Homo sapiens: one gene and its partner. The protein of the gene in region 2 purifies or fractionates together with the protein of the main gene of each other region. This does not show direct contact. Each region holds a gene or a part of one and is shown on either strand. Other genes may lie near its edges. The genes, in order: EPS15L1 and GAREM1.

The links.
Region 1: the proteins of GAREM1 (region 2) and EPS15L1 purify together in Homo sapiens (affinity purification with mass spectrometry; one large-scale study listed by BioGRID and IntAct). This does not show direct contact.

What each region holds. Positions count from the first base shown.
Region 1 is NC_000019.10:16,360,370-16,364,186, forward strand, and holds part of EPS15L1 (epidermal growth factor receptor substrate 15-like 1), read right to left. Parts: intron 1,616-3,817; coding exon 1,410-1,615; coding exon of another isoform or gene 1,401-1,409; exon of another isoform or gene 1,209-1,400; intron 1-1,208.
Region 2 is NC_000018.10:32,464,189-32,468,005, forward strand, and holds part of GAREM1 (GRB2-associated and regulator of MAPK protein 1), read right to left. Parts: intron 1-3,817.

The DNA of each region.
Region 1 (3,817 bases), on a different chromosome or scaffold from region 2:
GTGCGCATCTAGGGTCAACAAAATCAAACTCACTGCCGTTGTAAAATATTTATAGGTCACCAAGAGCCAGAAACAGGTCAGGGTCTTGGGCGATTTAAATAAGCCACATGGGCCAGTCACGTGTAACCCCAGTACTTCAAGGTGGGAGGATCGCTTGAGGCCAGGAGTTCCAGACCAGCCCAGGCAACACAGCAAGACCCTACCTCTACAAAAAAAAAAAATTAAACATTAGCCTTGCGTGGTGTTGCACGCCTGTCGTCCCAGCTACTCAGGAGGCCAAGACAGGAGGATCGCTTGAGCCCAGGAATTCGAGGTTACAAGTGAGCTCTGATCGCGCCAATGCAGACCAGGCTGGGCAACACAGCGAGACCCTGTCACTAAAATAAATAAATTGACAAATAAGCCATAGGATAGCTGTGCACGGTAGAGATTATCAAGACGGCTCAGAAACAAATCGGGTGCTTTCTGTGCATTGACATGGCAGGGCTGTGTTCAAAGAGCCATCCCAGGAGTCGAAGCATCTATAAATAACACATCTCACACCTAATGATGAAGGAACTAACAAGCCCAAAGGAAGAAAGCGAGGGCATCACACATAGTGAAACCAATTCTGGGAAGACAACACCTGAAGCTTTCAGAGAACAAGATTTTCATGTATCAAGGAAGCTGCTAAAAACTCCTTGAAGCGACGGCATGTTACAATCTGGAATATTTTTTCACACAGAGAAAAACAAAGCCAGGCTTTCGAAATCCCGAGATTTGCTTCCGAAAAGGCACTTAACTTTGCTCAACAGTTTTTTGGAGCTCTTTTTGTTTTGGCTTTCAGAGTGGCTGTTCTAGACTGGATTTCTTTTTTCATTGGAGCTGGTAACTGAAATTTAAAAGCTTTAAAAAAAAAAAACTTCAAATTGCTCTTCCCTGGCGCGATCTGCCTGAAGTCCTTCAATTTGCACTTGTGGCACAAAATGCATGGGGCGGGACTGTGAGAACTTGTGCACAAAGGGCTTTTTGGGGACAGCAGAACCCTAATGTAACTTTCGCAATCTTCTTTTCATACTTCGGAAGTGTTTGACATCTTGGCTTCCAAAAACCAGTGAACACAACAGCCTCGGTGCGTCAGAAATAATACAATGAATCTACCGTGAAGGACAGATAGGTCCCGCCTCCCTGCTGGAAGAAAACGTGCCCTTATGATAGAGCATCCAAACTGCGGCTCTTTTTTTTTTTATTGAGAAACTGTTTTTCTTACAGAAGTGGCAGTGTAGAATAAATAACGCGAGGGACAGAGAGTGTGAGGTACCAAGAGGCTAAAGAAGCTGGGAGGTTTGCCTTTAAAAGGAGACAAAAATCCCAGGGAAGCTGCAAGCGGAAGGGAGTGGGGTGGCCCGGAGGCGGAGGACTCAACTTACAGAGGTGAAGTCTGCAAAGCCCGAGGCAGAGGCCTTAGAAGGTTTAGCTGCAGAGGAGGGGACAAATGGGTCTTTTCCACTAAACGGGTCCCCAAACCCCTTTTTACTTTGGAACGGGTCGCCGCTGTCAGCCCCGAGTGGCTGGAATGGATCGGGGGCCTCGGGAAAGTCTGCGGAACCAAGCTGGCTTACAGGTGTACTTTTACCTGGAAAGTTTAGGAGAAAAAAAAAAGGAGAAAGAAAGAAATATGAGTTACTCACCCGGACAGAGCAGAATGCTGGTGGGCACAAGCCCGGGGCGCTTCTCTGAGAAAAGCTTGTAACTTGGCTAACAGGCTGGACGGGGGTACCCTGGGGAATCCCAGTTTTAATCAGCTTTATCCCAGGGGCTTAACGGGTTGTGAACAACACAGGAAAAACACTTCAGATGACTCCCATACACAACGCACACAGAGCAGCTAAAACTTGAGTTGTCCTAGAATAGTTTGCATGCAGGTACGTTTCAAACAGATTCATTTTAGCATGGCAACACATTTATTAACATACTAATTTAAAAAATCATGGCTGAGCAGAAAAATACACTGCAAGCTTCTAACAGTAAAAAAAAAAAAAGGCAGAGGGGAGAGTTACTTGCAAATGAAAAGGAGGAATTAGTTTCACAACGTGGTATGGTTATTCGGTGTGTTAGTTATAAGGGTCTGCACACAGCTCTGCCATGCTGAGGTTTAAGTTCTTTTTTTTTTTTTTTTTTTTTTTTTTTTCAGAGACAGAGTCTTGCTCTGTCACCTGGGCTGAAATGCAGTGGTGCAATCATGGCTTATTGCGGCCTTGGCCTCCAGGGCTCAAGCGATCCTCCCACCTCAGCCTCCTACAGGCATGAGCCACCATGCGTGGCTAATTTTTGTATTTTTAGTAGAGATGGGATTTTGCCATGTTGCCCAGGCTAGCCTCAAACTCCTGCCCTCAAGTCATCTGCCCGCCTCAGCCTCCCAAAGTGCTGGGATTACAGGCATGAGCCACTGCACCTGGCCTTAAGTTCTTTTTTAGCCCCCACTTCTGTCCCTCTGGTGTTGGTGGCTCCAAGGGGCAGCGTTTATCTGGGCCTTTCTGGGCTTCTGCCAAGCAGGGAACTCCAGGATGCCCGGTCCCAGCAAGGTATATCTTGACAGGGAGGTGAGAGAGAAGTGTTCAGAAATGGAGGAAAATGACACTGTGTGGGGGACATGGCCTGAGGATGGTAGCTTTTCCCAGTGCATCCTGCCAATGTACCAGAACATTCCACCAAGAAGCAGAGGCCTGTTAAGATCTGCTTGGTGACGGGAGGTCCCACCTGACGGGCCTTCCAGCATCTGCAGTTTGCAGGCCAGCCGGGCTGACTCCATGCTCCTGACACCCCTCTATCTGCCCAACGGAGTCCCTGGGCATTCAACGTGGTCCACGCAGCACCCCAGACTGGAAGCTCAATAATATGCAACACGATTCCGGCGTGTTAACTCTGGAAGTTTCGAAGCTAATGTTTAGAAAAAACCAGGAACTGCCTGTCCCTCCAGGGTTGACCTTGGATCTCTGGCTGCACCTCCAGAGAGCACCCTGGCTCCCAGCCACACCTGCCCCGCCCACCACCTGAGCCTGGGACACCTGCCTTCCTCATCCGGTAGAACGAGCCCACACAGGCCAGCCTCGGTCCCTCTCCATGCCCAGATCTAAAGCCTTTCCCTCTGTTCCCCCAGCAGATCAGCCATCCCAGGCCTCATTTTTGAGGCCCCAGGTGTCCTTGTGGGCTCCGGGGCTACAGCCCCCATCTGCCACCTTTAGCTCTGGGCCTCGGCAAGGGAAAGTGCCTCCTCCCAGCTGGCCTCCGTTTCCTTATCTGTGAAGTGGAAATGAGAAGGAGGGCGCCAAACAAGGTGACATTCCTGGGGTCCAGGAGTCTCCTCCCACTCAGTGTCCTGCACCGCCGTGCCCAGCATAGGCCAGTGAGAACCTGGCCCGTAGCCCCCCCTTGCCTGTAGCCCTACTTCTGGAAATGGAAATTCACTTTTCTCTCAACCGGCAGTTCTGGGCCAGCATAAGGACTGCTGCTTTCTTTTTGCATATTCAAGGAAAAACAGTCTTCCTTCCCACGGTTTGCACAGAAGGACTCGGAGACAAACTCCCCTGCAGCCCACCCTTGCGGCCTGCCTGTCCGCCTCTGCCCGTCCCACAGGGTTCCACCGGGGTCGCCGTTGCATCCTTAGCTGACCTCTGGCCACCAGCTGCGGGAGATCCTTCCAGACTCCTTGTCTGTGTGAGTCCATCTAAGAGGCTCCTCCTCAGGGTTGGAGGGCGAGCTGTCCTGGGCTCTATTAGGACTCACATGGATGAGAAAGAGGGGAGGTCGAGGCCTGGTATCAGTCTCCTCCTGTGGC
Region 2 (3,817 bases):
GCTGAAGCAGGAGAATTGCTTGAACCCAGGAGACAGGAGTTACAGTTAGCCAAGATTGAGCCACTGCACTCCAGCCTGGGCGACACAAAAAGAAAAAAAAAAGATGTAAGTGTCTAAGCTCACTGTTTCGGTACCATTTGGTAAAACTCACCTGTGATTCTGGATTAAATTAAAAGTTCCTGGCCAGATGTGGTGGCTCAGGCCTACATAGTCTCAGGTACCTGAGAGGCTGAGGCCAGAGGATCATCTGAGCCCAGGAGTCTGAGGGCAACCTCAGCAACAAAACGAGAACCCATCTCTTTTTTTAAAAAAGTAAAGTTCCTTTCCAAACTCCTCCAGTCCCTCCGAAGCCCAATCTTGGTTAGATTAGTCAGTTTATAACACTTTCTGTCTGATAAAGACCTTTCGCCACCTTTCTATAACCTGCGGATTACCAGATCAATAACCTGGAATACTCAAAACGAAACACACTCAAGTCACCCAGAGCATTTCTCTCAGCTTCTTCTTCTGTACAAAGACAATAAAACCTGCTGCTACCTAAATGATATGCTATACTCTGAAGCCTCCCTCAACTGATCCGTATCTACTACAGCCATCTCACACATGTATTTGACATATATTATTGCATTTAATTCCTATAATAAGTAGAATGTAAGCACCACAAAGACATACAGTTTTGTCTGATTTGTTCAGTGCTATAGTCCCAACACCTGTAACAGGGCTTGTCACATAGCAGGGGCTTAGTTAAGTGTTAGTTGACTGAATAAACAATTTACTGAATGAAGAATAGGGGCAAGTATAACGTCTAGTTTTCCTACACGGGAAAACTACAAATCAAAGGGATTACAAGACCTGACCAAGATCACATGACTATGAAATGGCAGTACCTCTAACAGAACGAAGGTCTCTTGGCTCCAAATCCAGTATTCTTTAAATTATCATTCCCCCCACCCTGGCCATGTGTACTCTCTTAAAATACAGAATGCCAGGAGAAATGAAGCCACAAGATGAACACCGAACATCTTCCAAGAGCAAAACTAAGTTACTTTGGGAAAAAGAAAAGAAAAGAAAAAGAAAAAGACATCAATTACAAAGTAGATTTTGAGAACTTACTTCAATTTCAATGATAAAACATGGATCCGAGAAAGACCTCTGATGTTTACAAACAGCCACTTGGAGCCTCCCTGGGGCCTAAGTGTCCATGTTTTTGCTCCTAGAGGCCAGTAAATGATAAAGCTGCAGAAGCCTCTGAGCACAAAGTAAGGACCAAATTTCCCACAGTCCCAACACATCCGGGACTTAGAATCTGATCTGATTCCTATGCACAGCCAGGAAGGAGAGACGGTCACTGCTCCTGTTCTACCTACTTAGCAGTCTCCTACTCTTTTTCTTCCCTCTCCCTGCCTTTCCATGCAGCCTTGGTCTTCCTTTTCCTTTCAGCAAACAGGGCCATTAACACATCTTTTATTGTGCTAGACCAGCATTCTTTAAACTGGGGTACATGTTTGGGGCAAAGCTAACACTTCCCAAGGGTCTCATCATCACAACTGTAAAGGAATCAGTTTCTACATTTGAAATTTCCAAACGTACTCTTGTTTAAAAATTAATGGGCTTGGGTCCACGCTTGCGTTGGACATCCATCCTGTGATGACCTTCACTGTGATGGAAGGAACCTGTCGTTCACCATCTCCCCTTCACAATGGTTCTTCACTCACTTTACAAAAGTAATGCACTTGTATTACCTTCTCTACATCTTTCTAAGATGCATTGCCTGAGGGTGAAAAGACCTTGGGTAGAGAAACAAACAAAGGAACAAAAATATTGATTCGTGTTGCAGGGTTAAAGTCTCCACTATTTAGGTAACAACTATTTCTGTTAAGTCAGGTAATTTCCAATTCTTTGTTTTAAAAACAACCAGAAATCATTAAATATTGAAAGTCTTATGATCAAAATAAATACGAAATACTAGATTTCAATCTATATACTTTTTTTTTTGGTTACAGAGAGTATGGCAGAGTGATCAATAGAATACTTTCAAGCATAAAAATATATTACACTGAGACAGAATTCTATACAGCGGAAGAGAAATGGAGTAAGAATTTAAAGAGATAAAGAAAAGGTGTAAAATGTTTAACTTTCAAAAGATTGATTCTTGAATCTCATGAATTTTTAAACAAATGATATTAGAAATCAAATATATATTTTACTAGAGTTTTTAGAATGATGTAATACTTTAAAATATGAATAGTTACAATATGCTGAGAAATTACATCCCCTGCAAGCATTTAAACTTAGAATGAAAAGTTTTAGCATTTAACTGAAAAATGTGCTTAGGGACAGAGTTTCACCAAATCTTTTAGGAGGCATAGAAGCAAAAAGGTTGTAAGAATGCTACTCTAACACAAGCCTTCAGGGTCTATCCAAGATGAAATGAGGAGGAGAGAGAAAATGAACAATTTCCCACCCATCCAGTTTTGAGTGAGGATGGTTGGGGGTGGAGGATTAGTATTTTCTCCATCCTCTCCTTGGTCCTAAGCACATTTGCTGAACCCAGTTCTAAAGTCAACAGTTTATAAGACTGATGATCAATCAGTTTAAATATCTGATCTTAATTGCACTGCTGACTGGGCTTAGACCTCAGCTGATGAGATACATCTCATCAAATCTCCCAAGGAGAATTGCTAGAGTACCTTTCTCTGGGTTCTCCAGAAAAACTTGTGGGGCAACATTTATAAAGGCTCAATTATTTTGTATTTATCTTATCATACAAAGGCAAATTTCACCATCAAGGATGTAATATTGAACACATCTATCTACCTGGCACTTCAGGAGTGGCATGTATAATGCAAAGAATTGGAGAGTTCTTTATATATTGTGTAGTGAATATTCATTCTAAGGATGGCAAATGTCCTGAAGAGTCATCTCAACAGACACATCTACGTTACTAGGCCCTCAAACCCCAATGTTTTTTTTCTCCTGTTCTGTAACCTCTTCTTCCCCACTGCCTCTTGCCTCTTTTCAGCCACTCCTTTGGCAAGCAGAAAGTTGTATGTATGATGGATGAGGCCAGCACTTAATTTGGTGTCTACACTGTTTTTAAAATATTGACTTTCCAGTCCTCAAGCTCTCAGAGAGACAGTGAACCTATTTAGAGCAGATGTCAGAACAACTTCAACCCTTCTCTCCTTTAGTACCAGGAGGTAGCCCAGTTTGAGATAAGAGGTCAGTCTTCAGAGTCAGAAGGTTGGCTGGAAATTCCACTCCACCATTTACTAGGTACGAGTCTTCAGGCAAGTCAATTTTTCTGAATCTTAGGTTCCTGAAGTTCTTAAAAATTGTGTTGCTGAGGATTTGAGACAATACATATTATGCATCTAGAAATGTACCAGCCCATAGTAGGCTTCTGATAATCAATAGTTGTGAAATTAGATTTTTTAATGTTCTTTAAAAATTATTTAAAATTAGCCAATCATTTCCTCTTGGCATAATGTCAACTAGTGGCATGTTTTTCAATTTTGTTCTAGTCTCTTTAAAAACAAGTGATTTGAAAAATGACTATCTTTCATGTCTAAGTATAGGGTGGGCGTGTGCAGATGTAAAATGTACCTGCAGTACTAAAACTGGGGAAAAGGCAAACACAGGATGAGGACAACACAAAACTTAAGATTTCACCTATAACATTTATAAATATACCAGCATGTCCTCAACCTGTCCTAAACTGTGTGAAACATGTTTAAAAACATGCAAAGAATCTATGATTGACTCTTTTAAAGTCTACCCAAATTAAACTGCTATAACAACACTTTCCCCAATCAAA